Linked DNA regions of Homo sapiens: regions 2, 3 and 4 are each linked to region 1. Evidence: fine-mapped expression QTL. A gene starts in region 1. Each other region holds a variant in brackets. All regions are shown on one strand. Distances are between the middles of the regions. Region 1 holds the start of KRI1 (KRI1 homolog). Region 2 overlaps SMARCA4 (SWI/SNF related BAF chromatin remodeling complex subunit ATPase 4). Region 3 has its middle 5.4 kb from the start of ATG4D. Region 4 has its middle 7.1 kb from the start of AP1M2.

Region 1 (8,100 bases):
CGCCTGTAATCCCAGCACTTTTGGAGGCCAAGGCAGAAGGATCCGTTGAGCCCAGGAATTCGGGACCAGCCTGGGCAACAAAGCAAGAACCCCAACATAAAAAAAAAAATCTGTATTTAAAAGCCAAACACAAATAACAAACAAAAAACACCAGCCTGGGCAACATAGTGAAACCTCATATCTACTAAAAACACAAATTAGCCGGGCGTGGTGGTGCGCCCTGTAGTCCCAGCTACTCGGGAGGCTGAGGCAGGAGGATCACTTGAGCCCGGGAAGTCGAGGCTGCAGTGAGCTGTGATCGCGCCACTGCACGCCGGCCCGGGTGACAGGAGTGAGACCCTGACTCAAAAATAAATACATATATAAATAAAAATTAACTATTGTCTCTGGCCCCAGACCATAGGTGTCCCTGCAGCAGGGGCCGACTGGCGTGCTCTCCACTCGGGCCCCTCTAGGAGGTGCTAAGTAAATATTTGAACGAAGACCTCTGAGTCCCTGTCTGGCTGCGACTATGTCCTCTCAGGCCTTCCCACGTGGCAGCTGCAGGCTCCTTTCCTGCTGGCTCAGTCTGAGCCCGGCAGGGTGATCCCTTCCTCATCCACTCCGTCTCTCCGTTTCCCTTTCTTCACGGTGCTTGACACTATCTAATATTATTTGGTTGTTTGAATGTGCGCGTCCAGCTCCCAGGACGCTCCCTGCACACAGTGAATGAATAAATGAATGAAATAAAGCGCCCAGCTCGTAGTAAGGGCCAATGAATGTCTATTAGTAGTGGAACCTCGGATTGGGTGGCTCCAGCCCTGCCTCCCTTCCCTCAGGAGGCGCCGAGGTCCCAGAGCAGCCCGCGCGACCCTGCCCCTGACCTTTCTCCCTGGGTCAGTTAAACCAGCCTTCTTTCCCGCCTGCCGGGTTCATTTGAAAACCGAAAACCCCGCCATTGCCGGCGGTCCACCGGTTGCCACACTCTGACCAATCAGGAGCGACGCGTTTCACGCCGAGCCCGAAGTTTCCCCGGCGACGCGCAGCCACTGGTTATGCAGGCCCTGTGGGCGGAACGCCGTAAGGTCGCGCGCCGGGCAACGCGGTGCCGCTACACAGTAGCGAGTTTGTAAGAAAACAAATCAGTTGCGTTCGGGGCGTGGCCGGGAGCACGTTGGCTCCGCCCCCTGGCGGCTGCCTCAGCGGCGGCGGCGGCGCAGGCTCAGAGCAGACCCCGCCCGGCGAGGAGGAGGGAGGGTGAGTTAGGGGGAGACCCGGCCCCCAAGGGGCGGGCGCCGGGCAGGGCCCCGCGGGCGGCCGAGGGTTGGGCCCGGCTCCCAGCCCCTCGCCGTCCTCCGGCTGACAGGGGGAGGAGCCCGCCGGGAGGGCCGGGGTCTCGGGCTGGGGAGCCGGGACGGGAGAGCAGCGCAGCCGGGTGCACCGCGGCCGCGCCCCGGGAGGGCTGTTCGGGCCAGCGCCCGCCGGCTGCTCCGCGCTGACAGCGCCGGGCTGGGGCGGGGCGGGGGGCTTTGCAGGCCGCCAGTGTCGACATGCTGCTGGAGGAGGTTCGCGCCGGCGACCGGCTGAGTGGGGCGGCGGCCCGGGGCGACGTGCAGGAGGTGCGCCGCCTTCTGCACCGGGAGCTGGTGCATCCCGACGCCCTCAACCGCTTCGGCAAGACGGCGCTGCAGGTGAGGCCGGGCCGGTCCAGGTTGGGGCGGGGCGGCTAAGCGGGATGAGGATCGAGACCCCAGAGCTCCTCTCTGGTCTCCTGGCCCTGGTGGTGACCCACTGGGAACCGGTCCTTCTTCTCTAGGCTTTCATTGTTCCCCCACAGTCCCCCTTCGAAGGTGGGTGGTGGGTGAGGCTAGGTTGTGGGGGGAGGGGAGAGCTTTTTAGCATCTTCTCTGGGAGGATTCCTGGTTCTCTGAGTGCCGGGGATTCACTTTCCCTGGGGAGGTTCTTATTCCGTGGGTGCGGGTTCAGCTCCTTTGGATGCCGTTTCCATGGGGACGGCTCACGTTTCTTGGGGCTTCTATGGGGAGATCCGATCTCTGGAAGGAGAGGTCCTGTCTCTAGGGGTTCCTCATTTTGTAGGGGGCTCTCTGAGACAAATCTGGTTACTTGGGGGTGGGGTCTTCATTCCTAAAGGTTATGCGGATCCTTGATATAGTATGGGGGCCCCAATGGAGGAACAATGTCAGATTGCAAGACATCCCTATATTCCCTGGGAGACATTTTACAGGGAAGTCTCGTTTCTCTTTTATTATTACTTTTGGAATCCCGCTTCTTGAAAGGAGCTCTCAGGTACTCTGAGGTGACATCACCATTATGTAGGAGGAGGCTATTTCCTGGAGAAGGGGTTCGCTTTCCTTTGACATCTTTTTTCCCTTATGAGGACTATCAATTCTTTGGGGGTAGTTCTCCATCTCTGGGGGCCCATTTCCTGGAGGGGATTTTCTGTTTCCTGGTGATTGCCCATATCTGGGGGCGTCTTTGGTCCCTTGGGGGAGAGTCTTAGGTTCCTTGAAAGTTTCCATGGGGGGCTGTTCTCTGGGTTGGGGGGTCTCATTCTTAAGGGAGTGACCAGCTTTTGGGGGGGGTCCCTATTCCCAGAAGAACTTTCCTGGGGGCTTATGCAGCTTCTCCGTTCACTAGAGGACCCCTCCTCTAGCATTTCCTGTTTCTGGGAGATGCCTCTTTCTGGATGACCCTTCTCTTTCCAGTGACCCCTTTTGTGGAACCTCCTCCCTTGAGGACCTCCTGATCCTCTGTCCCTCACACAGGTCATGATGTTTGGCAGCACCGCCATCGCCCTGGAGCTGCTGAAGCAAGGTGCCAGCCCCAATGTCCAGGACACCTCCGGTACCAGTCCAGTCCATGACGCAGCCCGCACTGGATTCCTGGACACCCTGAAGGTCCTAGTGGAGCACGGGGCTGATGTCAACGTGCCTGATGGCACCGGGGCACTTCCAATCCATCTGGCAGTTCAAGAGGGTCACACTGCTGTGGTCAGCTTTCTGGCAGCTGAATCTGATCTCCATCGCAGGGACGCCAGGGGTCTCACACCCTTGGAGCTGGCACTGCAGAGAGGGGCTCAGGACCTCGTGGACATCCTGCAGGGCCACATGGTGGCCCCGCTGTGATCTGGGGTCACCCTCTCCAGCAAGAGAACCCCGTGGGGTTATGTATCAGAAGAGAGGGGAAGAAACACTTTCTCTTCTTGTTTCTCCTGCCCACTGCTGCAGTAGGGGAGGAGCACAGTTTGTGGCTTATAGGTGTTGGTTTTGGGGGTGTGAGTGTTTGGGGGACGTTTCTCATTTGTTTTTCTCACTCCTTTTGGTGTGTTGGACAGAGAAGGGCTCCTGCAGGCCACAGCCACCTAAACGGTTCAGTTTCTTCTGCGCCTCAGGCTGCTGGGGCCTCAGACGAGACCCAAGGGCAGAGCATTTAAGAGTGAAGTCATGACCTCCAGGGAGCCTAGAAGCTGGTGGCCTTGGCCGGCTGTGCTCAGAGACCTGAAGTGTGCACGTTGCTTCAGGCATGGGGGGTGGGGGGAGCGTCCCAAATCAATAAGAAGGTAGAATGAGTTATGAGTTATTCATATTCTGTTGGAAGCTTGTTTTCCAGTCTCTTGTACAGCGTTTTAAAAGAAATGGATTCTATTTATTATGCTTTATTGGAAAAAATGTTGTAATAATTTAATGTTTTTACCCATTAAATTAAGACTTGTGCATGATCACAGCACGGGTGGCTTCTGATTTTTGAGTCTGGGATGGAGAGTTACACATCCCGGATGTTGATGGGGATGAGGACGGGGGTCGCGGATCGTGGATGTGGTGGGTGAGGGGAGAGAATAGTAATTCCCAGGGCGCCAGGGTGAGTGAGCTGGGTGGGGCAGCGGTTTTCGCTGTCGGAACGGAAGGGAAGCAGGAAACCGCGAGTGGAGAAAGGGCCCCCAGATGTCAGCTGGGTGCCCGGAGCACAGGGGGTGGGGCGGGTGGGCGGTGGCCGCGGCCTTCCCCGCAGGGGCGTAGCCGTGGGCGGTGACTGCGGTGATGAGGCGAAAGGGATCCCGGAAAAGCCAGGGGCGGGGTTAGCAGCGGTACGCCTCGTTTACAAGTGGATGCGGGCGGGACTGAGGGCGGCCCCGCCCCGTCCAGGGCTTCCTCAATGCGCGTGCGCAATGGGCCACAGAACCGCCATGCCGGAACCGCGCGGGTCGTCGCAGCTGCGGGTGAACGCGGCGTTTGCCGCGCGGTACAACCGCTACCGGGAGCGCGAGGAACTGCAGCGGCGTGAGTGCGGGGCGCATGCGCGCGGGAGCCTGCGCGCGCCGGCCGGTTGGGAAGTGGGGAGTCGAGTGGCCCCGCCGGCTGACCTGGGGGGGGGCATCCCGTCTGTGTCCCGCAGTGAAGGATCGCTACGGGGACCGAGACAGCAGCAGCGACTCCAGCTCCGAGTCGGACTCAAGCGACGAGCGCGTGGTGCGCGTCCCCGCCCCGTCCTGGACGTGCGGAGGCGTCCAAGCCCCCCTCTGCACCCCGACCCCGATGTAGACGGGGGGGAACCCCCAACCCCAGAGCGCCCTGCGGGAGCGTCCCATCCTCCGCTCCCCATCCCATGAGGGACAGACAGTGCCCCCCCTCTCCCCAGGGGAGCCAAATCCCCGTTATTTTCTCTCCCCTGCCACGATCCCCACCTGCCCACTCTGATGTGTGGGGCGACTCTGTCCCCCAAGAACCCCCCCTTTCCTCTTTCATCCTCAAGAGTCTAGCCATTTTTTAGTGTACTCCTTGCGCCACGTGGGGCGCCCAACTTCTCACATCAGCCCTGATCCTGGCCCCACTGTGCGGCCTGGCCCAGCCCCTCCCCGCTGTCTCTCTTGTGCCCTCAGCCCACCTGCCCCTTGTCAAGTCTTTGTCTTCCCCAGGAATTACCTTCTCCTTGCCCCTCACCTTCCTCTACCCATATCCTGTACCTACCTGTGGCCTGCCCCTGCCCACCCCAAGAGGGCCCCTCTCCCTCCTGCTGTTTGACCACCTGTTTGACCTCCCCAGCCAGATCCACCCCCCTCCATCCTAATCCCTACGCTGAGCTCACCTGCTGGCGCCAGGGCTCTTATTATCTCCCTTCTGAAATCTATCCCCAACCCTTTTCCTGCCCTAGGAATTTGATCCCCAGCAGGAGCGGGACTTTTACAAAACGCTCTCCTTGTTGAAGAAGAAGGACCCCCGCATTTATCAGAAAGATGCCACCTTCTATAACAGAACAGGTCCGGGGCCACTCCTGTCTAAACCTCTCCTTCCTCTGGAGCAGAATCCGGGGTCCTTTCCTGACTGTGGATTCAGAGAAGTGACTTGACTTCTCTGAGCCTCTTTTCCTGTCTGTAAAGTATATCTAACGGTAGCATCTCCCCTCAGGGCTGTTTTAAGGATAGATTGGGATTTACCCAGTTTACACAGTTCATCTGTTTTGACTATTGAATGAATTGCTTCACAAGTCACAAGTCCTTAGCAGAGCCTAGGTTATTACCTGGTGGTGGAGTTAATGACTGTGTCCTTGGCACTATTCAAGGTGGGAATTGCTGACTGAATGATTCCAACTCCACCAGGCTGGGCAGGTGGTTCAAGCATCTAATCCCAGCACTTTGGGAGGCTGAGGTGGGAGGGTCAATTGAGGCCAGGAGTTTGAGACCAGTTTGGCCAACATAGCAAGACCCCATTTCTCTTTTTTTTTTTTTGAAATGGAGTTTCACTCTTGTTGCCCAGGCTGGGTTGCAATGGGACGATCTCAGCTCACTGCAACCTCCGTCTCCCAGGTTCAAGCGATTCTCCTGCCTCAGCCTCCTGAGTAGCTGGAATTACAGGCACGCGCCACCACGCCCAGCTAATTTGGGATTTTTAGTAGAGACAGGGTTTCTCCATGTTGGCCAGGCTGGTCTCGAACTCCCAACTTCAGGTGATCCGCCCACCCTGGCCTCCCAAAGTGCTGGGATTACAGGCGTGAGCCACTGCGCCCAGCCAGCCTTTCTTTCTTTTTTCTTTTTTTTTTTTTGAGACGGAGTTTTGCTCTTGTTGCCCAAGCTGGAGTGCAATGGCATGATCTGGGCTCACTGCAACCTCCGCCTCCCCGGTTCAACCGATTCTCCTGCCTCAGCCTCCGGAGTAGCTGGGATTACAGGTGCGTGCCACCACGCCCAGCTATTTTTTTGTTATTTTTAGTAGAGATGGGGTTTCACCATGTTAGCCAGGCTGGTCTCGAACTCCTGACCTCAGGTAATCCATCCGCCTTGGCCTCCCAAAGTGCTAGGATTACAGGCGTGAGCCACTGTGCCTGGCGGCAAGACCCCATCTCTACAAAAGATTCAGAACTCAGCTGAGCATGCTGGTGTGCGCTTATAGTCCCAGGTATTTGGGAGGCTGAAGTGGGAGGATTGCTTAAGCCCATGAGTTCAAGGCTGCAGTGAGCTGTGGGCTAGGATGTTGACACTGCACTCCAGCCTGAGCAAGAGTAAGACTCCAACTCTCAAAAAAATTAATTATAATAATTAATCAGGCTGGGCATGGTGGCTCATGCCTGTAATCCTAGCACTTTGGGAGGTTGAGGCGGGAGGATCACTTGAGGTCAGGAGTTCGAGACCAGCCTGGCCAACATGGTGAAACCCCATCTCTACTAAAAATAACAAAAATTAGCTGGGCGTGGTGGTGCACACCCGTAATCCCAGCTACTCAGGAGGCTGAGGCAGGGGAATCGCTTGAACCTGGGAGGCGGAGGTTGCAGTAAGCCAAGTCACGCCATGCACTGGGCAACGGAGTGAGACTCTGTCTCAAAAAAATAATAATAATGGCCGGGTGCGGTGGCTCACGCCTGTAATCTCAGCACTTTGGGAGGCCGATGCAGGCAAATCACCTGAGGTCAGGAGTTCGAGACCAACCTGACCAACATGGAGAAACCCCATCTCTACTAAAAATATAAAAATTAGCCGGGCGCGGTGGTGGGCACCTGTAATCCCAGCTGCTTGGGAGGCTGAGACATGAGAACAGCTTGAACCCGGGAGGCAGAGGTTGCAGTGAGCCGAGATCATGCCATTGCACTCCAGCCTGGGCAACAGAATGAGACTCCACCTCAAAAAAAAATAAGTAAATAAATAATAACAACAATAATAATAATCAAAGCAGGAATTACTGACTGAATGACCCCAACCCCACCAGATGGTGACAAGCACAATACTCTTGGACAGCTGGGAATTGGTGGATTTGGGATTTGAATCCTCTGTCTAACCCTGGCCCTGCCCTGTGGGATTCTCTGCCACGGCAAAGAAGGGGGTTGTGGGTGATGGCAGGTGTCTTTGGTGGGTTAACAGCATCGTCATCAGACAGTGAGGAGGACCCAGAAGCCTTGGAGAAGCAGAAGAAAGTGCGGCCCATGTACCTGAAGGACTACGAGAGGAAGGTTATCTTGGAGAAGGCAGGGTATGGAGAAGGCCTACATCCCCACCCCCTGGTTCCCAGCCCTGTCAGGTCTATGGGGGTCTTAGGGGCAGGAGAGGGAAAAAAGCTGGCAGCCTGGGCCGGGCATGGTGGCTCATGCCCATAATCCCAGCACTTTGGTAGGCTGAGGCAATAGGATCGCTTGAGGACAGAAGTTTGAGACCAGGCTGGGCAACATACCCCGCCTCTACAAAAAAATTAAAAATTAGCTGGGCATGATGATGTGTACCTGTAGTCCCAGCTACTCAGGAGGCTGAGGCAGGAGGATTGAGCCAGGAGATGGAGGCTGCAGTGAGCTATGATCAGGCCACTGCACTCCAGCCTGGGCAACAGAATAAGACCCTGTCTCAAAAAGAAAAAAGGCCGGGCATGGTGGCTCATGCCTGTAATACCAGCACCTTGGGAGGCTGAGGCGGGCAGATCACCTGAGGTCAAGAGTTTGAGACCACCCTGGCCAACATGGTGAAACCCCGTCTCTACTAAAAATACAAAAATTAGCCAGATGTGGTGGTGGGCGCCTGTAGTCCCAGCTACGTGGGGAGGCTGAGGCAGGAGAATCGCTTGAATCTGGGAGGTGGAGGTTGCAGTTTTCCGAGATCATGCCACTGCCCTCCAGCCTGAGGGATAG
Region 2 (8,100 bases), 480 kb before region 1:
ACAGGAGAATTGCTTGAACCCAGGAGGCAGAATTTGCAGTGAGCTGAGATCAGGCTACTGCACTCCAGCCTGGCGACAGAGTGAGACTCTGTCTCAAAAAAAAAAAAAAAAAAGGAAATATGTCCCCACTGTGTTCCCTCGGACGACTGCGGCACAGGCTCACTGAAAGGAAGGGCCTCCTCAAGGCAGGGGGCTGCTCCGAGTTCCAAGGGAGGCCAGGGCAGGAGGGAAAGGCACGAGCGGCTCCCCCAGGCCTCCTGCTGCCAACTCCACACACCTGCACCTCTGTCTCTAATTGTCCTGTCCTAAGCTTTCCTTAAACACGCCATTCTAGTTTTCAGACTCATTCTTCTAAACCAGTTGCCTTGTTTATTTGTGTTATGTAAAGGTCTCTATCACTGAGGGGGAGACTTGGGGGTAGGGCCCGACTCACAAACAGAGGAGGGGGAGCTTCTTCCAGCAAATCCTGGGGCAGGCGCAGAACCCCAGCACGGCTCCACAGGGAACCTGACCGCAGGCTGCGTGGGCAACTCCATCCATGACTTTTAGGCCCCCTGAGCCCTCTGCCATGGTTATGTTGGACCCAGTGCCCTGCACCCAGCCTATGCCCATAAGTGGGCATGCCTGGGGCTCATCTGCTCGGTGCCCTCATCCAGCCAGTGCCTGCACAGCACCAGGGTCCAGGCTATGTGCCAAGCAGACCATAGACCTGGAACCACAGGCCAAGGGCCAGACAGCCCTGAGGAGCCCCCCTGTCCCCAAGGAATGGCTCCCACTCCTGCCCACCCTCCACCTGCACCCTTCCCTCAGGGGCCCTGCCCTGGGGGCTTGAAGGAGTGTGACAAACACTTTCAAGCCTTGGGATGACCTCTCCTGCAGAATGTTTCAGGCAGGTCTGAAACATTCAGACAATCTGTTTCATTGTTTTTCTTGCACAAGGTATAACCACTCAACTCTGAAGAGCCAGGAGGGACAGTGCTTGTGGAAAGGCAGGGAAACAGTGCAGACAGGCCTTCAGCAGTAGCAGCCAGCCCCTGCCAGACCCAGGCCAAAGCTGTCACCACGAATTGGCAAGGCAGCAGCTCAGGCCCTGGGCTAGGGACCATCGTCCCCTCCCACAGTGCACACAGTGCTGGCGTCTGGGCTGTGTGCCTGGCCACGTTATTTCAGTCAGGCCCCTGTGCTGCAGACGTGGAGACTGAGGCACAGAGACAGGTGTGGAGTGCAGATCTTCACTGCATTCAGGTCCCTCCTACAGTAACCACAGGGCTGCTGCCTCCAGGCAGTGGGGAGTGGGAATGGAACCCAGAGGGCCCGCCTGGTGGGGCCAGAGCTCTTGTGAGGCTTAGCTGCGGCAGCCTGGACCCGTCACCGTCTTTCCGAGCTGCCCGAGCATAGTCTGCAGCCATTGTGCCCCTCTAGCCCTGAAGCTGTGCACGTGTCTCCTGACCTCAGCACAAGCATCAAGTTCAAGTTCAACACCACCGTCTAGCACAGTCTTTTTTTTTGAGACGTAGTCTCACTGTCACCCAGGCTGGAGTGCAGTGGTGCAATCTTGGCTCACCGAAACCTCCTCCTGGGTTCAAGCGATTCTCCTGCCTCAGCCTCCCAAGTAGCTGGGATTACAGGCGAGTGCCACCATGCCTGGCTAATTTTTGTATTTTAATAGAGACGGGGTTTTTGCCACGTTGGCCAAGCTGTTCTCAAACTTCTGAGCTCAAGTGATCAGCCCGGCTTGGCCTCCCAAAGTGCTGGGATTACAGATGTGAGCGCCTGCGCCTGGCCCGCATGGTCTTTATTGTAGCAGCATCTCTGCCCTATCACTGTCGCAGGCAGGCTGGTGGCTGGCGGGGTGGTCTTTAGCAGGCTGCTGGCTGAGCCCACATGGACCAGCAGATGCCCTTCTCTGAGCCCTTACCAAGCACACCAAGGGTGTGCCCCCTGACACACATGCGGCCTTGACACTTGGACACAGTGCCCCAAATGCCTCAGCCACCAGCTGCTGACTGCTATAAAGAACCCAGGGAGGGAGGCAGAGGTTGCAGTGAGCCAAGACTGTGCCACTGCACTCCAGCCTGGGCTACAGAGCAAGACTCTGTCTCAAAAAAAAAAAAAAAAACACAGAACCCAGGGAAGAAGGTATCAACTGGCAGTGTACAGCCCCACAAGCCCGAACCTGACCCGAAGCCACAGAGAACGTTTCTGCATGTTCTGATTTTAAAGTAAAATCTCCTACATGTAACTTAATTTCTTAATTCTGGTTTCGATTTCTGGCAGGTTCCTCAATGTGGTTTGAGATTTCAAACCACCAAGGAGAAACGCCCTTGGCTAAGGGCAGGTGTGTGGCCCAGGGCCCCTGTGAGGCCCCTGGTGCTGGCGCAGCCCCACTCAAGCCCCTAGCCTCCCTCCAGCCTCTGCATGCACTGTGTCCTCTCTGCCTGGGACACTTGTCCCTCTCCTCCCAGTGGACACTGCTCACACTTCCTGTTCTGCTTACGTGGCCCTTCCCACTGGAGCCACCACAAGCCCCTGGACAGCAGAAGCCAGCACTGCCGGCATGGTACCACAGAACACTCCAGCCTGTTCCTACTGTGGCCCCTGAGCAGGAGGGGCATGTCACTGCACTCTGTGTATACAATGTAAAGGACCGTGGCTGTGACAGCTGGCAGTGCCACACTCCAGGGCCTTGGGAGGAGCGGCCTCATGGCTGTGAATCTGAGTGCAGAAGAACAGAGTATAAGATTCCCAGGCAAGACAACTGTACACGTATGATGAGGTCAACACAGAGGTCACGTCAAACACAATTCTGCCAGAATAAAACACGAACTAGGGGGCTGCAAGTATCTCCAACGATCAAAAGCAATATTTGAAAAGATTCCACCTGACAGGAAGGGCGTCCCTGCCTCTCCAAAAGGGTCTGGCCCCAACACAGCAGCGGGTGCCCAGCTAAACCACTTCTGTCCTCAGGTGTCGCCACCTAGACGGACCATGTGGCTCCCACCTGCAGTCATGGGCACACTCTCCAGCTCGGCGAGGCAGGCTCCTGACACCGAATCCAGAGGACAACGTCCCGTGTTCACTCTTTGAATTGTTAGAACTCAGGTCTACACAGATGCCAGTCTCTTTTCAGGCTTCACATTTAACTCAATTGCAGAGCTGAACTACTTAGAGGGTTCTGGAGAGCCAACTAAAAAACAAAAATTCCGGCCAGGCATGATGGTGGTGTGCACCTGTAATCCCAGCTACTTGGGAGGCTGAGGCAGGAGAATCACTTCAACCTGGAAGGTGGAGGTTGCAGGGAGCCGAGATTGTGCCATGGCACTCCAGCCTGGGTGACAGAGTGAGACTCTGCCTCAAAAAATAAATAAAAAAAAAAATCCAATTAAACAAAAAGAAGTTTTTTTTCTTTTCTTGGAAAGGAGCAATTCAAAGTTGGAGACAAAAAAGTGAGCTGTTAGCTGTGTCTGACTTTATTCCATTCAAGCTCTTCTCAGCCTGGTGCAGCTGTGTGGGGCCAAGGAAGGGCCGAGTGACATGAGCACCACCTGCCATGCAGTCGGTGGCGAGGAAGCTTCCAGGGATCTGACAGATGTGTCATACAGAATGTAACTTCTAGACAATGATGGGCAAATAATAATAATAATAAAAAAGAATGTAACTTCGCCCCAAATGAGGTCTGGCTTTTGCCTGGGGCTCCTGGGAGGTGATCTCTGAGTCCTTAGAATGTCACACCTAATGGCTGTCTTTGTTTACGTGGGGTCTGGGACCAGTCCTAGGTTGGGGCTTTGGGCTATGTAGTTTCTGCTCACCTGCAGAGGGGCTGGAGATGGAGGTCAGCCACGTGGGTAGCCAGCTGTGTCTTTGTGACCAAGTCCCAGTAAAAATGCTGGACACAGGGTGGGTACGGTGGCTCATGCCTGTAATCCCAACACTTCGGGAGGCTGAGGCGGGCGGATCACTTAAGGTCGGGAGTTCGAGACCAGCCTGGCCAACATGGTGAAACCCCATCTCTACTAAAAA[AT/T]ACAAAAATTAGCCAGGCGTGGTGGCGCGAGCCTGTAATCCCAGTTGCTCAGGAGGCTGAGGCAGAAGAATCACTTCAACCCAGGAGGCAGAGGTTACAGTGAGCCAAGATAGTGCCACTGCACTCCAGCCTGAGTGACAGAGTGAGACTGCATCTCCAAAAAAAAAAAAAAACCTCTGGACACGGAGGCTTCTCTGGTTGGCAGTGCTCTGTGTCAACGTCACCGGGAACATCAGCGCTGTCTTCAACTCCACAGGGAGGAGACAAAGGAAAGCCCTGTGTCTGGAACCGTCCAGATCACCTCAAGTGATCCGCCCACCTTGGCCCCCAAGAGGCCCCATACATCTCTTGCCTTGGTTGATTTTAATCTGTAGCCTTGCACTGTAATAAATCATAACTGCAAGCGTAACAACCGCTAGGGCTCTCGGGGTCCTAGAGAATGACGGCACTTGAGGGTGATCTTGTGGACTTTTCCCACCCTGTGGACCCTGAGTTTGTCTTCCCTCACAGCTTCAAATTTAGTTAAGAATATCAGAAATATCCATTAAGTACACCAATTTTGTACCCAAACATCATGTTTGAAATTATTGCTAAATGGAGGCAGCTTTTCTTTTGCTTTTTTTTTTTTTTTTTTTGCAACAGGGTCTCACCTCTGTCACCCATGGTGGAGTGCAGTGATGTGATTATACCCCACTGCGGCCTTGACTTCTTGTGGTCCTTCTGCCTCAGCTTCCTGAATAGCTGAGTCAACAGGAGTGCACCACCACGCCTGGCTAATTTTTGTATTTTTTGCATAGGCGGGGTCTCCCTGTTTTGCTCAGGTTGGTCTCGTACTCTTGGTCTCAAGGGATCCACAAGCCTCACAGCCTTACAAAGTTCTGGGATTACAGGCGTGACCACTACGCCCAGCTGAGGTAGCTTTTCAACGACTATCTTTCCTGAGTTGATGTGCCCTATGTGATGTTTTCCTGTGCAAATCACATTACAGTGAGTGGACAGACCCACGCCTGCTGTGCTTCCAGCACTCAGGAGGCTTTCTTTAATAGTCATCTTTGTTGTCCTACTTGTAATTCCAACGTAGTTACTCCCAGTCCAATGGGCGACCCCCAGGTCTGTGAATCCATCCATTCCAGTAAGATGTGAGGTTAAATTGAAAACACAGATCAAATCCCCCACTGAGGCATCCTCCCACATGGATCCCAGGTAAGACAGGAGCATTGCTGTGTGACTGAAATGTTGGTGTCCTCTTCAAAGCAGGTCTCAAAATCTCTACCAGAATCAAATGTCCCGAAACAGAACAGTTTCGATAAAGCAGTCACTTAGCAGTAAGAGTTAAGATTTGGGGTTTTTTTTTTTTTTTTGAGACGGAGTCTCGCTCTGTCGCCCAGGCTGGAGTGCAGTGGCACAATCTCGGCTCACTGCAAGCTCTGCCTCCCGGGTTCACGCCATTCTCCTGCCTCAGCCTCTCGAGTATCTGGGACTACAGGCGCCCGCCACCACGCCTGGCTAATTTTTTGTATTTTTAGTAGAGACGGGGTTTCACTGTGTTAGCCAGCATGGTCTTGATCTCCTGGCCTTGTGATCCGCTCGCCTCAGCCTCCCAAAGTGCTGGGATTACAGGCGTGAGCCACCACACCCAGACTTTTTTTTTCTTCTTTTTTTTAAATAGAGACAGAGTCTCACTATGTTGGCCAGGCTCATCTGAACTCCTGGGCTCAAGTGATCCTCCGCCTCGGCCTCCCAAAGTGCTGGGATTATGGGCGTGAGCCACTGTGCCCAGCCGAAAGTTTTAATTTATTGTATGATTTATCATCAAATCTTACAAAGGCTACAAGACTGACTGTAGCAGCTGGGTGAGCCATTCCCTCTTTTGTCAGATGATATACAACTAAATATGACCCTAAGAGGGCTCTGTGAGTCTAAAACTAAAAAAAAAAAAAAGTGGACTAACACTAGACATACTTTTTGTCTGAAAATATTCAGGTTCTTAATAAGCTGAGCATGCTGTTTCTGTCTTTTCAAAAACCAAGGTGTAATGGAATACAGAGAAGTGTACATATCTCATGTGTACACCTTGGTGAATGTACACATCATATACACATCCAGATCTATAGAGAGAATATCCCCAGTATCCTAGAAGGCTCGTCGTGTGGCTTTCCTGCTATTCCCTCTCTCAAGGTAAGCACTGCTTGGCAGCCATTACTGTGGATCAGCTTCTGACCCTCACAGAACTGGAGGCACACAGTAGGCCCTCTTTTTTTTTTTAGACGGAGTCCCGCTCTGTCGCCCAGGCTGGAGTGCCGTGGCGCGGTCTCGGCTCACTGCAAGCTCCGCCTCCTGGGTTCATGCCATTCTCCCGCCTCAGCCTCCCGAGTAGCTGGGACTACAGGCGCCCACCACCACACCCGGCTAATTTTTTGTATTTTTAGTAGAGACGGTGTTTCACCATGTTAGCCAGGATGGTCTCAATCTCCTGACCTCGTGATCCGCCCGCCTCGGCCTCCCAAAGTGCTGGGATTACAGGCGTGAGCCACCGTGCCCGGCCAGTATGCCCTTTTTAGTGTCTGGCTTCTTTCACTCAACAAAATGTAAGCTTCTTCCAGGTAGCAGTACTATGTCTGTTTTCACAGCTGTTTGGGGCCCTGTACGATTAGGCCTCCACTGATCCATGCCCCTGTAGATGGACACTGGGCTGATTCTTGTTTTGGGAGATTATGACCAAAGTGGCTATGGACACGTCTGTCGGTGTGGACAGATGCACTCAGCTCTCCTGGGTAGAACGAGGGCTGCAGGCTGCTGGGTCAGAGGGTATGTACAGGCTGAGCCTCAGAAAATATTATCTTCTGCAGTTCGATGGTTAAAAACAAACAAAGCAAAACAGAAGAGATTGCCAAAGAGCTGCATACTCCTACACGCAGGGTGTGAGGCCAGACTGCTTCAGACTTGCCAGCACTGATGGGCATTCGGCCGTTCTGGGGCGGGTGCTGGTGCAAGTCACTCTGGTTTTAACGAGCATTTTCTTGAAGTTGTGATGCTAATGCAATGACGTGAGCACCTTTCCCCACATTGATTAGTCCTGGGATGTCCTGTGTAAGGAGGCGTCTGTTCCCGGCTCTTGTCCAGCTTTAAATTGTGTTGTCTTTTCCTCATCTATGAGGAGTTTTCACTGTCTCCATCAGCGTGTCCATTAATAAACAGATGTTATTAATTTCAGTGAGGTCTAATTTCTCAATTGTTTGTGATTAGTGGCTTTTGGCTCCCGTGGAAGAAATCGATGCCTACTCATGAAGATTTTCTCCCGTGCTTTCTTCTAGAATTTTGTTTTACCTTTCACGTTCTTACATCCACAGTCCATGTCACGTGGATCCAAGTGCATGGTGTGTGCGTGTGTGGGGGTGGTCGAGGCTCATCCTCTCTACGTGGATACCCAGGAGACCAGTGTGATGGAGACACCCGTGCTTTCCCCACTGCGCTTCAAGGGTCTTCTTTAGGTTGGTAATGTTAAGTTTCCCTCACAAGATTATCATTAGAAATAAAACATGGGGAGGGTCTGTCATTGTCATTAGATTTCTGCGAATTCCCTTTTTTTGTTTTTGTTTTTTGTTTTTCAGGTATTGTCTCACTCTGTCACCCAGGCTGGAGTGCAGTGGTGCAATCTTGGCTCACTGCACCCTCTGCCTTCTGGGTTCAAGCGATTCTCGTGCCCAGCCTCCCGAGCTGGGAGCTCAAGCACGCATCACCATGCCAGTTTAATTTCTATTTTTGTATTTTTTGTAGAGATGGGGTTTTGCCATGTTGGCCAGACTGGTCTCAAACTCCTAACTTCAAGTGATCCGCCCACCTCAGCCTCCCAAAGTGCTGGGATTACACGAGCCACTATACCTGGCCCATGTTTTAAATAAGTATTCTGTATTTATTTCATTTTTTTAAGATACAGGGTCTCATTCCATCACCCAGGATGGAGTGCAGCTGTGTGATCATGGCTCACTGTAGCCTGGACCTGCTGTGCTCAAGTGATCCTCCCACCTCAGCCTCCCAAGTAGTGGGGACCCCAGGCATGTGCTACTGCCCGCAGCTGT
Region 3 (8,100 bases), 28 kb after region 1:
CCACCCCTGGCTAATTTTTTTTTTTTTTTTTGAGACGGAGTCTCGTTCTGTTGCCCAGGTTGGAGTGCAATGGCGCGATCTCGACTCACTGCAAGCTCTGTCTCCCAGGTTCACACCATTCTCTTGCCTCAGCCTCCCGAGTAGCTGGGACTACAGGCGCCCGCCACCACGCCTGGCTGATTTTTTGTATTTTTAGTAGAGACGAGGTTTCATCGTGTTAGCCAGGATGGTCTCGATCTCCTGACCTCGTGATCCGCCCACCTCGGCCTCCCAAAGTGCTGGGATTACAGGCGTGGGCCACCGTGCCTGGCCACCCCTGGCTAATTTTTAAAAATTTTTCTGTAGAGATAGAGTCTCCCAGTGTTGCTCAGGCTAGTCTTGAACTCCTGGGCTGAAACGATTAGCCTCAGCCTCCCAAAGTTCTAGGATGACAGACATGAGCCACTGCACCTGGCCAGGGACAATTTTTATTTTTTATTTTATTTTCATTTATTTATGTATTTATTTTGAGATGGAGTTTCGCTCTTGTTGCCCAGGCTGGAGTGCACTAGTGCGATCTTGGCTCACTGCAACCACCACCTCTCAGGTTCAAGCAATTCTGCTGCCTCAGCCTCCTGAGTAGCTGGGATTACGGGCGCACACCACCACGCCCAGCTAATTTTTGTATTTTTAGTAGAGATAGGATTCCACCACGTTGGCCAGGCTGGTCTCGAACTCCTGACTGAGGTGATCCGCCAGCCTCGGCCTCCCAAAGTGCTGGGATTACAGGCATGAGCGATTGCACCCAGCCAGGAAAAAGTTTTAAATGTGTCTAACTCATAAAGATGTATGGGAATGAGCTGAACTTACCAATGTAAAGTGCTTAGAGTGGTATTTGAGGAACAGTTGGGGCTCAGTGAGAGCCAACTGCATGATGACAATGCAGTGACCCTGTGAGCCATGGAGAGGGTGGCCTCTAGTGGCCAGCCCCGGGGCTCTGTCCTCAGCTCTCTGAAGGAGGTAAGAAAGATTTGAATGAGGGTGTGATCCAAGAAGGAGAAGGCACAAAAGGGGCAGTCACCTCCCTGACTTTCCTTTTTTCCCCTCTCCTCCCAGTCGCCTTCAATCACAATTGACCCCTTTCTCTTTCATTAATTTATTAATTTATTGATTTATTTTATTTTATTTTTTTGAGACAGAGTCTTGCTCTGTAGCCCAGGCTGGAGTGCACTGGCACAATCTCAGCTCACTGCAACCTCCGCCTCCCAGGTTCAAGCAATTCTCCTGCCTCAGCCTCTGGAGTAGCTGGGATTACAGGTGTGAGCCACCACACCCGGCTAATTTTATATTTTTAGTAGAGACAGAGTTTCACCATGTTGACCAGGCTGGTCTTGAACTCCTGACCTCAGGTGATCTGCCCGCCTGGGCCTCCCAAAGTGCTGGGATTACAGGCTTGAGCCACTGCAACCAGCCAAGTGCACCCTTTCTCAAACTCAACAGAGCCAATGCCACCTCAGAGTCTTTGCACTTGCTGTTCCCTCTGCCCAGACCACGTTTCTTACCATGGCTCTCCGTCACCTCCTTCAGGTCTTTTTTTTTTTTTTTGGCAGGGTCTCACTTTGTTGCCCAGGCTGGAGTGCAGTGGCACGATCATAACTCACTGCAACCACGACCTTCTGGGCACCAGTGATCCTCCTGCCTCCTGAGTAGCTGGGATTACAGGCATGTGCCACCACACCCAGCTAATTTTTATATTTTTAGTAGAAATGGGGTTTCACCATGTTGGCCAGGCTGGTCTCGAACTCCTGACCTCAAGTAATCCACCCACCTCAGCCTCCCAAAGTACTGGGATTACAGACGTGAGACACTGTGCCCGGCCGCAAGTCTTTATTCAAATATCACCCCTACACGAAGATTACCACTCTCAAAATTCTCCCCCATCTCCATCCTTGGTCTCCTTCTCTTCCCTGCCTTTTTCCCCCTCCCCGCCGCATGGGAGTAGTTATCACAACCTTACTGTCTTTATCCCCTTGGGCTGCTGTGACAAATACCATAGCCTTGGGGGCTAAAACAACACACCTTTGCTTCTCACAGTTCTAGAGGCTAGAAAGTCCCAGATCAGGGTGCCAGCATGGTTCTTGGTGGGATTCTCTTCTATTTTTTGTTTTGTTTTGTTTTTTTGTTTTAGATGGAGTTTTTGCCCAGGCTGGAGTGCAATGGCAATCTCGGCTCACCACAACCTCTGCCTCCCGGGTTCAAGCGATTCTCCTGCCTCAGCCTCCCGAGTAACTGGGATTACAGGCGCCCACCACCACACCTGGCTAATTTTTTGTATTTTTGGTAGAGACAGGGTTTCTCCATGTTGCTCAGGCTGGTCTCGAACTCCCGACCTCAGGTGATCTGCCTGCCTTGGCCTCCCAAAGTGCTGGGATTACAGGCGTGAGCCACCGCGCCCAGCTGAGATTCTCTTCTTATCTTATATCCTCTCACCTGCCTTCCTTTCTTTTTTTTTTTTTTTTCTCACAGTCTCACTCTGTTGCCAGTACTGGAGTGCAGTGGCATCATGATCTTGGCTCACTGAAGCCTTGACATCCTGGTCTCAGCCGGGCTCGGTGGCTCATGCCTGTAATCCCAGCACTTTGGGAGGCCGAGGCAGGCAGATCACGAGGTCAGGAGATAAAGACCATCCTGGCTAACACAGTGAAACACAAAAAATTAGCCAGGTATGGTGGCGGGCGCCTGTAGTCCCAGCTACTCAGGAGACTGAGGCAGGAGAATGGTGTGAGGGCCCCACCCTCAAGATTGCGTCCAACCCCAATTCCCTTTTTTTTTTTTTTTGAGACAGAGTCTCACTCTGTTGCCCAGGCTGGAGTACAGTGGCGCGATCTTGGCCCACTGCAACCTCGACCTCATGGATTCAAGTGATTCTCCTGCCTCAGCCTCCCGAGTAGCTGGGATTACAGGCACGCGCCACCACACCCAGCTAATTTTTTGTATTTTTAGTAGAGACAGGTTTCGCCACGTCGGCCAGGCTAGTCTTGAACGCCTGACCTCAGGGTATCTGCCCTCCTCAGCCTCTCAAAGTGCTGGGATTACAGGCATGAACCACTGTGCCCAAGTGTATTATTTTCGAGACAGAGTCTCACTCTGTCACCCAGGCTGGAGTTCAGTGGTTCAATCAGGACTCATGGCAGCCTTGACCTCCTGGGCTCAAGTGATCCTGCCTGAGCCTCCTGAGTAGCTGGCACCGTGGGCACACACAACCGCATTCCATTGGAGTTGACCACTTTGAGCCCAGTGTAGGCCCAGGG[G/T]TCTTTGGATTCTGCACTCAGTACAGACTGTGCAGCCAGATGGCTCAGATAAGGGACCTCGCCACTCTCTGCCTCAGTTCCTTTTTCTTTGAGAGATGGGGTTGGGCAACTCGCTCGGGTCCCCTTCCACACTGTGGAAGCTTTGTTCTTTCGCTCTTTGCAATAAATCTTGCTACTGCTCACTCTTTGGGTCCACACTGCCTTTAAGAGCTGTAACACTCACCGCAAAGGTCTGTAGCTTCACTCCCGAGCCAGCGAGACCACGAACCCACCAGAAGGAAGAAACTCCGAACACATCTGAACACCAGAAGGAACAAACTCTGGACACGCCACCTTTAAGAACTGTAACACTCACCGCGAGGGTCCGCGGCTTCATTCTTGAAGTCAGTGAGACCAAGAACCCACCAATTCCGGACACATTTTGGCGACCCAGATGGGACCTTCGCCAATTGCCGAGCGGTGAGACCATCGCCTATCGCTGAGCGGTGAGACAATCACCTATCGCCAAGCAATGAGCAAATGGAGACACAAAGAGATGACATAATGTGGCCAAGGTTTCATTCTAGTAAGTTGCTGATCTGGAATTCTAACCCAGGAAGTCCTGTCTCCGGCGTCTATGATTTCACCCACTACACTATACTTCTTAAGCATGTCAAGAAAGTGAGAACTTTAAATTGATTTAATTAGACTAACTATGAAAGTCTGAAAATAAAATTGATTCATTGGAAAAAAAAAAAAAGAGAGAGAGACGGGGTCTCACTCTGTTGCCCAGGCTGAAGTGTGATGGTGCAATCATTGCTTCCTGCAGCCTTGAATCCCTGGGCACAAGTGATCCTCCTGCCTCAGCCTCTCAAAGTGTTAGGATTACAGGGGTGAGTCACGGTGCCCGGCCACTGTCTTAGTTTCTTTATCTGCCAAATGGGGTAGTGATACTGCCTCCCTTCTAGTGTTTGGGAGAAGGATGAAGTGAATATGCACAATGCTTTGAACAGTGCCAGGCACATGGTCTCCACCACGTCAGTGTGAATTATGACTGTTCTTGTTATTCTTATTCCCACCACTGCCCTCCTGGGTCCAGCATCCATCATCCTAGTCCCTGGTCTCTTAGCTGCTATGTCTGACCCCTCAAATCCACAAACAGCTAGAAGGACCTAGCTGTTTTTTAATTTTAATGTTTTTTTTTTTTTTTTGAGACAGGGTCTTGCTGTGTTGCCCTAGCTAGCTGGTCTCCAACTCCTGAGCTCAAAGAATCCTCCGACTTCAGCTTCCCGAGTAGCTGGGAATACAGGTACACACCACCCCACTCAGCTTAGAACGGTATTTTTATAAACAAATTCCATCATGCCAAAAAAATCTGGAAAAGAATCCGGCGGCTGTGGCTCACACCTGTAATCCTAGCACTTTGGGAGGCCGAGGCGGGCAGATCACTTGAGGTCAGGAATTCGAGACCAGCCTAGACAGTGTGATGAAACCCTGTCTCTATTAAAAATACATAAATTAGCTGGGTATAGTGGCAGGCACCTGTAGTTCCAGCTATTCGGGGGGCTAAGGCAGTAGAATCGCTTGAGCCCGGGAGGTGGAGGTTGCAATGAGCTGAGATTGCTCCACTGCAGTCCAGCCTGGGCGACGGGATTGAGACTCCGTTTAAAAAAACAAAACAAAACAAAAACAAACAAACCAAAAAAAAAAAACCAACCCAAAATTGGAGAAGTACAATCCAGTAGAAAAATAACATGAAATATAATTTTCAATATTCTATTAGCCACATTTTTTAAAAGTAAAAAGAAACAGGTGATATCAATTTTAATAATTCTTTTTATTTATCCCAACGCATCCAAAATGTTATCATCTCAACATGTAATGAAATAGAGACAAGGTCTCTGTCACCCAGGCTGGAGTGCAGTAGTGCAATCAGTACTCACTGCAGCCTTGACCTCCTGGGTTCAAACGATCCTGCCTCAACCTCCCGAGTAGGGGGGACCATGGGCACACACCACTACATTCTGTTGGAGTTGACCACCTTTTTTTTTTTTTTGAGTTGGAGTTTCCGTCTTGTTGCCCAGGCTGGATTGCAGTGGCATAATCTCGGCTCATTGCAACCTCCGCCTCCTGGGTTCAAGCGATTCTCCTGCCTCAGCCTCCCTAGTAGCTGGGATTACAGGCGCGTGCCACCATGCCCGGCTAATTTTTGTATTTTTAGTAGAGACAGTGTTTCACCACGTTGGCCAGGCTGGTCTCAAACTCCTAACCTCATGTGATCCACCTGCCTCAGCCTCCCAAAGTGCTAGGATTACAGGTGTGAGCCATTGCCCCTGGCCGTGGAGTTGACCACTTTGAGCCCAGTGTAGAGGCCAGGGGTCTTCGGCTTCTGCACTCAGTCTGGTGAGACTGACCCAGGTCTCTCAACAATTTCTTCCCTTCCTCCTGTCTTCCTCCTTCTGCTCCCAAAAGATTCGTGCCCTTAAAAAAGCCAGTCACCACGCACCTACACCTCAGGAACCCCCTGGCTGGGCTGTCCCAGGCTTTCCAAGATTGAACTCGTAGCCACACTTTGGATGCCAAATAACTGTCACTGTCACAGGTCAGCCTGGATTGTGGGTTGAATTCTCTGTCCTCCAAATATTCATGTGGAAGTCTTAACCCTGGGTATCTGTGAATGTGCCTTTATTTGGAAATAGAGTCTTTGCAGATTGATTGATTAATTTTTAGAGACTCGATCTTGCTCTATGGCCCAGGAGTGCAGTGGTGTAATCATAGCTCACTGTAGCCTCCAACTACAAGAATCAAGCTGTCCTCCTGCCTCAGCCTCCCGAGTAGCTGGGACTACAGGAGCACACCACCACGCCTGGCTAATTTTAAAAAATTTTTGTCAAATGGGTGGGGCACAGTGGCTCACGCCTGTAATCCCAGTACTTTGGCAGGCTGAGGTGGGCGGATCACTTGAGGCCAGGAGTTCGAGACCAGCCTGGCCAACACGGCAAAACCCTGTCTCCACTAAAAATACAAAAATTAGCTGAGCGTGGTGGCAGGCACCTGCACTAAGGAGGCTGAGGCAGGAGAATCGCTTGAACCTGGGAGGTGGAGGTTGCAGTGAGCCAAGATTGTGCCACCGCACTCCAGCATGGGCAACAAGAGCGAAACTCCATCTCAAAAACAAACAAACAAACAAACAAACAAAAAGACCATGGGAAGCTAGGAAGGACCCAGCTATGAATTCCCCTCTAGAGCCTTCAGACAGGGCATAGCTCTACCACCAACCTTGACTTTGGACTTCTAGCTTCCAGAGCTGTGAGAGAATACACGTCTGTTTTAAACCACCTAGTTTGTGCGAATTAATTACTGCAAGCCTGGAAATGAATGGAGTCGGTTTCTCCCTCTTCTCCAGCAGGCCTCAGCTTGCCCACCCACAGCTCAGAGGCCTGTCCTGACCTCCAGCTTGGGCAAGTCGCCCTGTGTGTGTTCTCAGGTCCACCTGATCACACTTGCCATCATTCCTAATCAGCTGTGTCATTGCTTGTGAATCTGTAAGTCGGCTGTAAGAACAAAACTCTCAGCCGAGTGCAGTGTCTCACACTTGTAATCCCAGGACTTTGGAAGGCCAGGGCAGGAGGATCACTTGAGCCAAGGAGATTGAGACCAGCCTGGGCAACATAGTGAGACCATGGTCTCTACAAAAAAAAAAAAAAAAAAAAAAAAAAAAAAGCTGGGCAGGGTAGCACTCATCTGTAGTCCCAGCTACTTCAGAGGCTGAGGTGGGAGCATTGAGCCCAGGAGGTGGAGGCTGCAGTGAGCTGTGAGTGCGCCACTGCACTCCACTCCAGCCTGGTTACCAGAGAGAGACAGACCCTGTCTCAAAAAAAAGAATATCCATTATGGCCAGGCACGGTGGCTCATGACTGTAATCCCAGCACTTGCGATGCTGAGGCAGGAGGATTGCTTGAGCCCAGGAGTTCAAGTTTGAGACCAACCTGGGCAACATGGGGAGACCCTGTCTCTACAAAAAAAAAAAAAAAAAATAGGCAGGCTTGATGGCACATGTCTCTGGTCTTAGCTACTTGTGAGGCTGAGGTGGGAAGATAGCTTCAGCCCAGGAGCCGGAGGTTGTGACGAGCTGAGATCGTGCCACTAACTCCAGCCTGGGTGACAGAGTGAGAACTGGTCTCTATAAAGAAAAAAAAAAAGACTGGCATGGTAGCTCACACATGTAATCCCAGCACTTTGGGAGGCTGAGGTGGGAGGATTGCTTGAGGCCAGGAGTTGAAGACCAGCCTGCGCAACATAGTGAAACTCCGTCTCTATAAAAAGAAAAAAAAAGTTACACTTGAATGGTTCTGTGGGAAAAAAAAAAAAAGAATCTGAACATCATTAGCCATCGGGAAAATTCAAAATAACATAGAAATCAGATACCCCCCAAAATCCTCTAGAACCTCTAAAATGAGAAACACTGACCTTAATGAGTGTTGGAGAAGATGTACAGGAACTAGACTATTTTATTTTATTCATTTATTTTGAGGCGGAGACTTGCTCTGCCACCCAGGCTGGAGTGCAGTGCTGCGATCTCGGCTCACTGCAATCTCCGCCTCCCGGTTCAAGCGATTCTCCCGATTCTCCTGCCTCAGCCTCCCCCAGTAGCTGGGATTATAGTCATGCGCCACCACACCCAGCTAATTTATTTTATTTTTTATTTTTATTTTTTGAGACGGAATCTCACTCTGTTGTCCAGGCTGGAGTGCAGTGGTGTGTTCTCCGCTCACTGCAACCTCTGCCTCCTGGGTTCAAGTAATTCTCTTGCCTCAGCCTCCCAAGTAGC
Region 4 (8,100 bases), 28 kb before region 1:
CACACAGTTGCCATAGCATGCAGCAAGGAAGAAAGCCAGCAGTAGTAAGTGACAGCCCCTCCTTCTCTTCCCTTCCCTCTTCCTTGGTGACCTGTAACTCCAAGTCCCAGCCCAGGACCCCTAACTCCCAATACTTGAAGGGGTTTTGTTTGTTTTTTTACTAATGATGGTTTTGTGGGTTTTTTTTAAAAAAGGGAAGAGTGGATAAGGGGAATAATAGGGAACAGGTATCCTTTGTTGAGAAAGGGAGAAGAGGTAGGCTGGGAAACTCCAAAGCCTTCCCAGTCCCCAGCACCTGCCGTTCTCACTACCTCCCTGGAGATGGTGGGAGGGAGGGCTTCCTAGGTCTTTCCAGGGTACCATGTGATTCACCTGGGGGTTGAAAGGAATCTGTCCCATATTGGGAATAACATTTATGATGCAAATATATATGTGTGTTTGTATACATAATAAATAAAAAAGTTACATTTCAAAATGAGAATTTTTAAAATAGTTTAAGAAAAAAGGTGGTGGTCCTGCAGATTATAATAAGAGTGACTGTTTACAGCCAGGAGTGGTGGCTCACATCTGTGATCCCAGCACTCTGGGAGGCAGGAGGGTCACTTGAGGACAGGAGTTCAAGATTAGCCTGGACAACACGATGAAAATCTGTCTCTAAGGCCAGACGCAGTGGCTCTCACCTGTAATCCCAGCACTTTGGGAGGCCGAGGCGGGCGGATCACCTGAGGTCGGGAGTTCGAGACCAGCCCGACCAACATGGAGAAATCCCGTCTTTACTAAAAATACAAAATTAGCCGAGTGTGGTGGCACATGCATGTAATCCCAGCTACTTGGGAGGCTGAAGCAGGAGAATCACTTGAACCTGGGAGTCAGAGGTTGCAGTGATCCAAGAGTGCACCATTGCACACCAGCCTGGGTGACAGAACGAGACTCGGTCTCAAAAAAAAAAAAAAGGAAAGAAAGAGTGAATGTTTATAGAAAGCTTAGTCAGTGTCAGACAAGGTATTAAATGCTTTATATATTTTTTTAACTCTTTTTCTTTTTTTTGAAATAGAGACCAGGTCTCATTAGCCTCAATCGATCTGCCCATCTTGGCCTCTTGAAGTGCTGGGATTACAAGCATGAGCCACCATGCTGGCCAAGCACCTTTTTTTTTTGAACCAAGGCTGCTGGAGGGCAGTGGCGCGATCTTGGCTCACCCAGTAAAGTGCTCTCTGTGTGTGTATGTGTGTGTGTGTGTGTGTATATAGTTGTTGTTGTTTGTTTTAGTTTTTGAGATGGAGTCTCACTCTGTCGCCAAGCTGGAGTGCAGTGGCGTGATCTCAGCTCACTGCACCATCTGCCTCCCGGGTTCAAGCAATTCTCCTGCCTCAGCCTTCTGAGTAGCTGGGATTACAGCACCCACCACCACGCTCAGCTAGTTTTTTGTATTTTTAGTGAAGAACGGGTTTCACTGTCTTAGCCATGATGGTGTCAATCTCCTGACCTCATGATCCACCGCCTCGGCCTCCCAAAGTGCTGGGATTACAGGCGTGAGACACCGCGTCTGGCCCAAGCACTCTGTATTAAATCATTATAATCATTTTCCAATTGGGGAAAGTGACCCAGAGAGGTGAAGTAATTTACCCACAGTAACATAATGAGCCCGTGGCTCTGCAAGGATCTGAACCCAGGGAGTCCGACTTTACACCCAAGACACACTTCCTTCCCCTTCAACCACATGCTTTCCGGAGTAGCGTCCAGGTCATATTGTTGAGTGATAATAGCAAGTTGTATTTTTTTTTTTTTATTTAAGACAGAGTCTCTCTCTGTCGCCCAGGCTGGAGTGCAGTGGTGCGAGCTCAGCTCACTGAAACCTCCTTCTCTTGGGTTCAAGTGATTTGTGTGCCTCAGCCTCTGGAGTAGCTGGGATTTCAGGTACGCACCACCATGCCCAGCTTAGTCTATATACATATATATATATATATATATAGTTGTTGTTGCTTGTTTGTTTTGTTTTGTTTTGTTTTTGAGACAGATTCTTGTTCTGTCACCCAGGCTCGAGTGCAGTGGCATGATCTCGGCTCACTGCAACCTCTGCCTCCTGGGTTCAAGCAATTCTCCTGCCTCAGCCTCCCGAGTAGCTGGGATTACAGGTGTCCGCCAGCATACCTGGCTAATTTTTTGTATTTTTAGTAGAGACAGGATTTTATCATGTTGGCCAGGCTTGTCTCAAACTCCTGACCTCAGGTGATTCACCTGCCTTAGCCTCCAAAGTGCAGGGATTACAGGCGTGAGCCACCACACCTGGCCAGTTTTTATATTTTTAGTAGAGACAGATTTTTTGCCATGTTGCCCAGGCTGCTCTTGAACTCTTGGCCTCAAGTGCCCCACCCGCCTCTGCCTCCCAAAGTTCTGGGATTACAGGTGAGAGCCACTGTGCCCATCCACAAGTTGTATAGTCTTATATGGTATGGGAGAAAGAGAGAGAAAGAGGGCAACACGCGCACACACACACACACACACACACACACACACAAACACACACACACACCCCCCTGCATGTAACCCAGCTGAAAAAGATCTGAATCAGCCAGTGGTTATGAGAGGGACGAAGATTGGGGTATGGGGGTGTCACAGGGGACTTTTTTTTTCTTTTTCTCTCACATCTCTGCTGGGAGGAACTTTTGCCTTTTCTTTAGTTTTGTTTTCTATTTTGTTTTCTCAGGAACTGGCTCAGCACAGTATTTTCTTAAGATAGGTTCTTGCTTTGTCACCGAGGCTGGAGTGCAGTGGTGCAACCATAGCTCACTGCAGCCTCAATCTTCTGGGCTCCAGTGATCCTCCCACCTCAGACTCCTGAGTAGCTGGGCATGGTGGCTTACACTTGTAATCCCAGCACATTGGGAGGCTGAGATGGGTGGATCACTTGAGGTCAGGAGTTTGAGACCAGCCTAGTCAACATGGCGAAACCCAGTCTCTACCAAAAATACAAAAATTAGCCCAGCGTGGTGGCAGATGCCTGTAATCCCAGCTACTTGGGAGGCTGAGGCAGGAGAATCACTTGAACTAGGAGAAGGAGGAGGTTGCAATTAGCTGAGATTGCGCCACTGCACTCCAGCCCCTGGGCGACAAAGTGAGAATCCGTCTCAAAAAAAAAAGAAAAAAAAGCTGGGCGCGGCGGCTCACGCCTATAATCCCAGCACTTTGGGAGGCTGAGGCAGGCACATCTCCAGGTCAGGAGTTCCAGACCAGCTTGGCCAAGAGACCAGCCTGGCCAATATGGCGAAACCCTGCCTCTACTAAAAATACAAAAATTAGCCGGGTGTGGTGGCAGGCACCTGTAGTCCCAGCTACTCGGGAGGCTGAGGCAGGAGAATGGCATGAACCCGGGAGGCAGAGCTTGCAGGGAGCTGAGATCGTGCCACTGCACTCCAGCCTGGGCAACAGAGCGAGACTCTGTCTCAAAAAAAAATAATAATAAAATAATAAAAGTAAATGAATAAATAAAATATAAAAAAATAAAATTAGCTGGGCGTGGTGGGGGGCGCCTGTAATCCCAGCTACTCAGGAGGCTGAGGCAGGAGAACTGCTTGAACCTAGGAGATGGAGGCTGCAGTGAGCCGAGATTGTGCCACTGCACTCAAGCCTCGGTGACGGTGAGACTCCATCTCAAAATAAATAAAAAAAAGAAAAGAAGAAGAAGAAGGAGGAGGAGGAGAAGGAAAAGGAGAAGAAGAAGAAGAAGAAGAGTGGGTGCCAGGGGTTGGGAGAGGGAGAAGGAGTGTTTCATAGGGAGAAGTTTTCCTTTGGGAAGATGAGAAAGTTCTGGAGATGGATGGTGGTGACGGTTGCATGGCCATTAATGTGCTTAATGCCACCGAACTGTGCACTTCAAAATGGCTAAGGTGGCCAGCTGTGGTGGCACGTGTCTATAGTCTCAGCTACTTGGGAGGCTGAGGTGGGAGGATGGCTTGAGACAGCAGGAGAGGAACTGAAATTCGGGCAGTTAGGGTGTCTGGGACAGCAGGTTCAGGTGGTGTCCTGTGGCAGAGGTCAGCAGGTGTCTGACTGTGCCAGGTGGGGGTGGTTGGAGGGCAATGGGGGGCCATAGAGGATGTGAGAGTGAGAGTCAAAAAATAATTGTGAGTTTCAGAGAGATCTCTTTAGTGGTGTGGAGAAGGGATTGTGGACAGGGCCTAGAGGCGTGGTCCCTGGGAGAGGCTGGAGGAGGCTCCAGGCATCCAGAAGGAACTAGGACAAGGCCACAGCCTCAGGGGGATGGGGGAGGCCGCCACTGAGGTGGGGCAGGCGGGGCAGGCAGAGCCAGCACACAGAGCTGCTCTGTTCTCTGACCCCAAGTAAGCTTT[T/C]GGGCTCATGAATTTTTCATGCCAAACAAGCCTGGAGTTTCAGATTCCAGGGCACTGGGCCCAGGCTTTCGGGTTCTGCTTACTGCCTGAAAACATCTCAGGGCCCCAGGAGATGAGTTCTTCATTTTGTTGTTGTTGTTGTTTTTGAGACAGAGTCTCACTCTATTGCCCCAGGCTGGAGTGCAATGGCGCAATCTTGGCTCACTGCAACCTCTGCCTCCCAGTTTCAAGTGATTCTCCTGCCTCAGTCTCCTGAGTAGGTGGGATTACAGGCATGTGCTACCACCCCCGGCTAATTCTGTATTTTTAGTCCAGACAGGGTTTCACCATTTTGGCCAGGCTGGTCTCAAACTCCTGACCTCAGGTGATCCACCCACCTCAGCCTCCCGAAGTGCTAGGATTACAGGCGTGAGCCACCACGCCCGGCTGCCAGGAGACGAGTTATTTTGAGGTTCAGCAATGTCTAGGCTGGGGTGAGGGCCTAGCAGTGACTGCATCCCCCTAGGTGACCTTCTCAGCAGGCAGTTGCTGGGAGCATGAAGGACCACCCCCCTCCTTTGGGCAGAAGCAACATAAAGTCTTGGGCTTTAGGCTGGGCGAGATGGCTCACGCCTATAATCCCAGCACTGTGGGAGGCCGAGGCGGGTGGACCACTTAAGTCCACAAGTTGGAGACCAGCCTGGGCGACATTGTGAAACCTGTCTGTACCAAAAAGTATAAAAATTAGCTGGATGTGGTGGTCACGCACCTGTGGTCCCAGCTGTGCAGGAGGCTGGGGTGGGAGAATTGCTTGATTGCTTGAACCTGGGGAGGTGGAGGTTGCAGTGAGCTGAGATCACACCACTGCACTCCAGCCTGGGTGACAGAGACCCTGCCTCAAAAATAATAATAATAATAATAATAATAATCAGGGCCAGGTGCGATGGCTCACCCCTGTAATCCCAGCACTTTGGGAGGCTGAGGTGGGTGGATCACCTGAGGTCGGGAGTTTGAGACCAGCCTGACCAACATGGAGAAACCTTGTCTGTACTAAAAATACAAAATTAGCCAGGCATGGTGGTGCATGCCTGTAATCCCAGCTACTTGGGAGGCTGAGGCAGGAGAATCACTTGAACCTGGGAGGCGGAGGGTATGGTGAGCCAAGGTTGCACCATTGCCCTCCAGCCTGGGCAACAAGAGTGAAATTCCATCTCAAAAAACAAAAAAGTCCGGGTGCAGTGGCTCAAACCTGTAATCCCAGCACTTTGGGAGGCCAACGTGCAATGCGGGCGGATCACAAGGTCAGGAGTTTGAGACCGTCCTGGCCAAAATGGCGAACCCCCATCTCTACTAAAAATACAAAAATTAGCCAGGCATAGTGGCACAAACCTGTGGTCCCAGCTACTTGGGAAGCTGAGACAGAAGAATCACTCGAACCCGTGAGGCGGAGGTTGCAGTGAGTCAAGATCACACCACTCCACTCCAGCCTGGGCGACAGAGCGAGACTCTGTCTCAAAACAAAAAACAAAACAAAACAAAAAAACCTTGTGCTTTCCAGAGCTCAAATCCCAGCTCTGCTTCTTCTGACTGGATGACATTGTACAAATCACTTACTCTCTCAAGGCCTCAGTTTCCCTATCTGTCAAATGAAGATAATAGAGTTGGGGGAGGTGACTCGTGTCTGTAATCTCAGTGTTTTGGAAGGCTGAGGTGGGAGGACAGCTTGAGGCCAGAAGCTCAAGACCAGCTTGAGCAACGTAGCGAGACCCCATCTCTACAAAAAATTTAAAAATTGGGCAGGCACGGTGGCTCACGCCTGTAATCCCAGCACTTTGAGAGGCTGAGGTGTGCGGATCACGAGGTCAGGAGATCGAGACCATCTTGGCTAACACGGTGAAACCCCGTCTCTACTAAAAATACAAAAAAATTAGCCGGGCTTGATGGCGGATGCCTGTAGTCCCAGCTACTCCGGAGGCTGAGGCAGGAGAAGGGTGTGAACCTGTGAGGCGGAAGTTGCAGTGAGCCGAGATTGCGCCACTGCACTCCAGCCTGGGCGACAGAGCAAGACTCTGTCTCAAAAAAAAAAAAAAAAAAAATTTAAAAATTAGCTGGGAGTGGTGTTGCTCACCTGTAGTCCCAGCTACTGGAGAGGCCTAGGTGAGAGGATCTCTTGAGTTCAGAAGGTTGAGGCTGCAGTGAGCCGTGTTTGCACCACTGCACCGCAGCCTGGGCGACAAAGCAAGTCCTTGTCTCAAATAAATAAAAAAAAAAAATAGGCTTCTGTAATTCAAGGGGCTGTCTTGAGGATTCCTGCATGGGCGACATTTAGGGCCACCCTCACTTATGGTGAGCACCATTTAAGCCAGAGTTAGTGTTACTAATAGTAATATTTGCATCCAGCAATATAGCAAAGCAGGCGGAAGCAGGCTGGGACCAGATTCTTAAATCCCGGGACTCAGATTCGAATTCTGGGTCAACTGCCTCCTGGCTCTGGGGCCGTGGGCTTGGGCAGGTGCCTTCACTTCTCTGTGTCCCTGCTTCTACCTTTATAAGATGGCACGAAGGAGACTTGTGCCAGATGATAACTTTTTATTTTTCATTCTATTTATTTATTTTCTTGAGACGGAGTCTCACTCTGTCACCCAGGCTGGAGTGCAGTGGTGCCATCTCGGCTCACTATAACCTCCGCCTCCCCAGTTCAAGTGATTCTTCTGCCTCAGCCTCCCAAGTAGCTGGAATTACAGGCATGCGTCACCACGCCCGGCTAATTTTTGTATTTTTAGTGGAGACAGGGTTTCGCCATGTTGGCCAGGCTGGTCTCAAACTCCTGGCCTCAGGTGCTCTGTCCACCTTGGCCTCCCAAAGTGCTGGGATACAGGCATGAAACATTGCTCCTGGCCCAGATGATAATGTTTTAATTAAAGTGCAGTGCTGCTGTCAATGTTGATGTTAATTTCAGGTGGAGAGGCAAGTGGATGATCCTGATAGCTGCTGTTCTCTAAGTCCCCACCTACAGGGGCTGATAAAGGGCTGGGCAGGGTTTGGGGAAAGGACAAGTGAGGTCTGGGTAGGCTGAGTCTTGTTCCCTGCAGGCCCTGCAGGACATCTCCCTCCCTCAGCCAAGCAAGGTGGTTCTAAGCAAGGCTGAGGTTTACTTTCCCTTTCCTTCTGCCCTGTCCTCAAAACTACCGCACTTTGGGAGGCTGAGGTGGGCGGATCACGAGGTCAAGAGTTCGACAGCATCCTGGTCAACATGGTGAAACCCCATCTCTAATAAAAATACAAAAATTAGCTGGGCATGGTGGAGTGCACCTGTAGTCCCAGCTACTTGGGAGGCTGAGGCAGGAGAATCGCTTGAACCCAGGAGACAGAGGTTGCAGTGAGCTGAGATCGCACCACTGCACTCCAGCCTGGCGACAGACTGAGACTCCATTTCAAAAGAAAAAAAAAAGGAAAGTCCAGGGGTGGAATCTGGGTCTGCAGCAGCTGGTGTGCACGAAACATGCATGGAGCCAGGGGCCATGCCAGGTATTTGGCTATGCAACTGCAGGAGAGGGCACCATGGCTGTTATACCCATTTAACATAAGAGGAGACTGAGGCACAGCAGGTGCATTCACCAGCCCATGCCTTATAGCCAGTGTGTGGTGGTATCAAAAATCAAACCCAGCATCTGTGCTCTCAACTGCTACATCATCATCCAGATCATCATCTTCATCCTCCTCCTTCTCAGCGACATGGTTGACAGTCAGCTACATCCAAGTTCCCTTCCAA

What was found.
Region 2: its variant is fine-mapped to the expression of KRI1 in whole blood (TOPMed, PIP above 0.99).
Region 3: its variant is fine-mapped to the expression of KRI1 in transverse colon (GTEx, PIP 0.99).
Region 4: its variant is fine-mapped to the expression of KRI1 in whole blood (TOPMed, PIP above 0.99).

Annotation. Positions count from the first base shown.
Region 1 is chr19:10,562,083-10,570,182 of GRCh38, reverse strand. It overlaps KRI1 (KRI1 homolog), which reads left to right and starts at 4,173. Exons shown (of 19, transcript NM_023008.5): 1 at 4,173-4,277; 2 at 4,393-4,466; 3 at 5,149-5,254; 4 at 7,346-7,454. The coding sequence starts at 4,184. It overlaps CDKN2D (cyclin dependent kinase inhibitor 2D), which reads left to right and starts at 1,204. Exons shown (of 2, transcript NM_001800.4): 1 at 1,204-1,670; 2 at 2,766-3,723. The coding sequence starts at 1,530. The coding sequence ends at 3,125. RefSeq lists silencers at 938-1,587, 3,903-4,432 and enhancers at 1,868-2,037, 2,477-2,984, 3,933-4,500, 4,703-4,752, 4,501-5,068.
Region 2 is chr19:11,043,505-11,051,604 of GRCh38, reverse strand. The region is part of intron 30 of SMARCA4 (SWI/SNF related BAF chromatin remodeling complex subunit ATPase 4); the gene reads right to left. Among named protein-coding and RNA genes, the nearest start is that of LDLR, 42 kb to the left of the region's middle. RefSeq lists enhancers at 2,179-2,468, 2,559-2,608, 5,206-5,255. The variant AT/T (reference allele first, on the strand shown) is at 4,021.
Region 3 is chr19:10,534,464-10,542,563 of GRCh38, reverse strand. No RefSeq gene overlaps it. Among named protein-coding and RNA genes, the nearest start is that of ATG4D, 5.4 kb to the left of the region's middle. RefSeq lists a silencer at 6,664-6,864. The variant G/T (reference allele first, on the strand shown) is at 3,291.
Region 4 is chr19:10,590,325-10,598,424 of GRCh38, reverse strand. It overlaps the pseudogene LSM2P1. Among named protein-coding and RNA genes, the nearest start is that of AP1M2, 7.1 kb to the right of the region's middle. RefSeq lists enhancers at 2,593-2,782, 4,257-4,781, 5,308-5,832 and a silencer at 7,245-7,445. The variant T/C (reference allele first, on the strand shown) is at 4,350.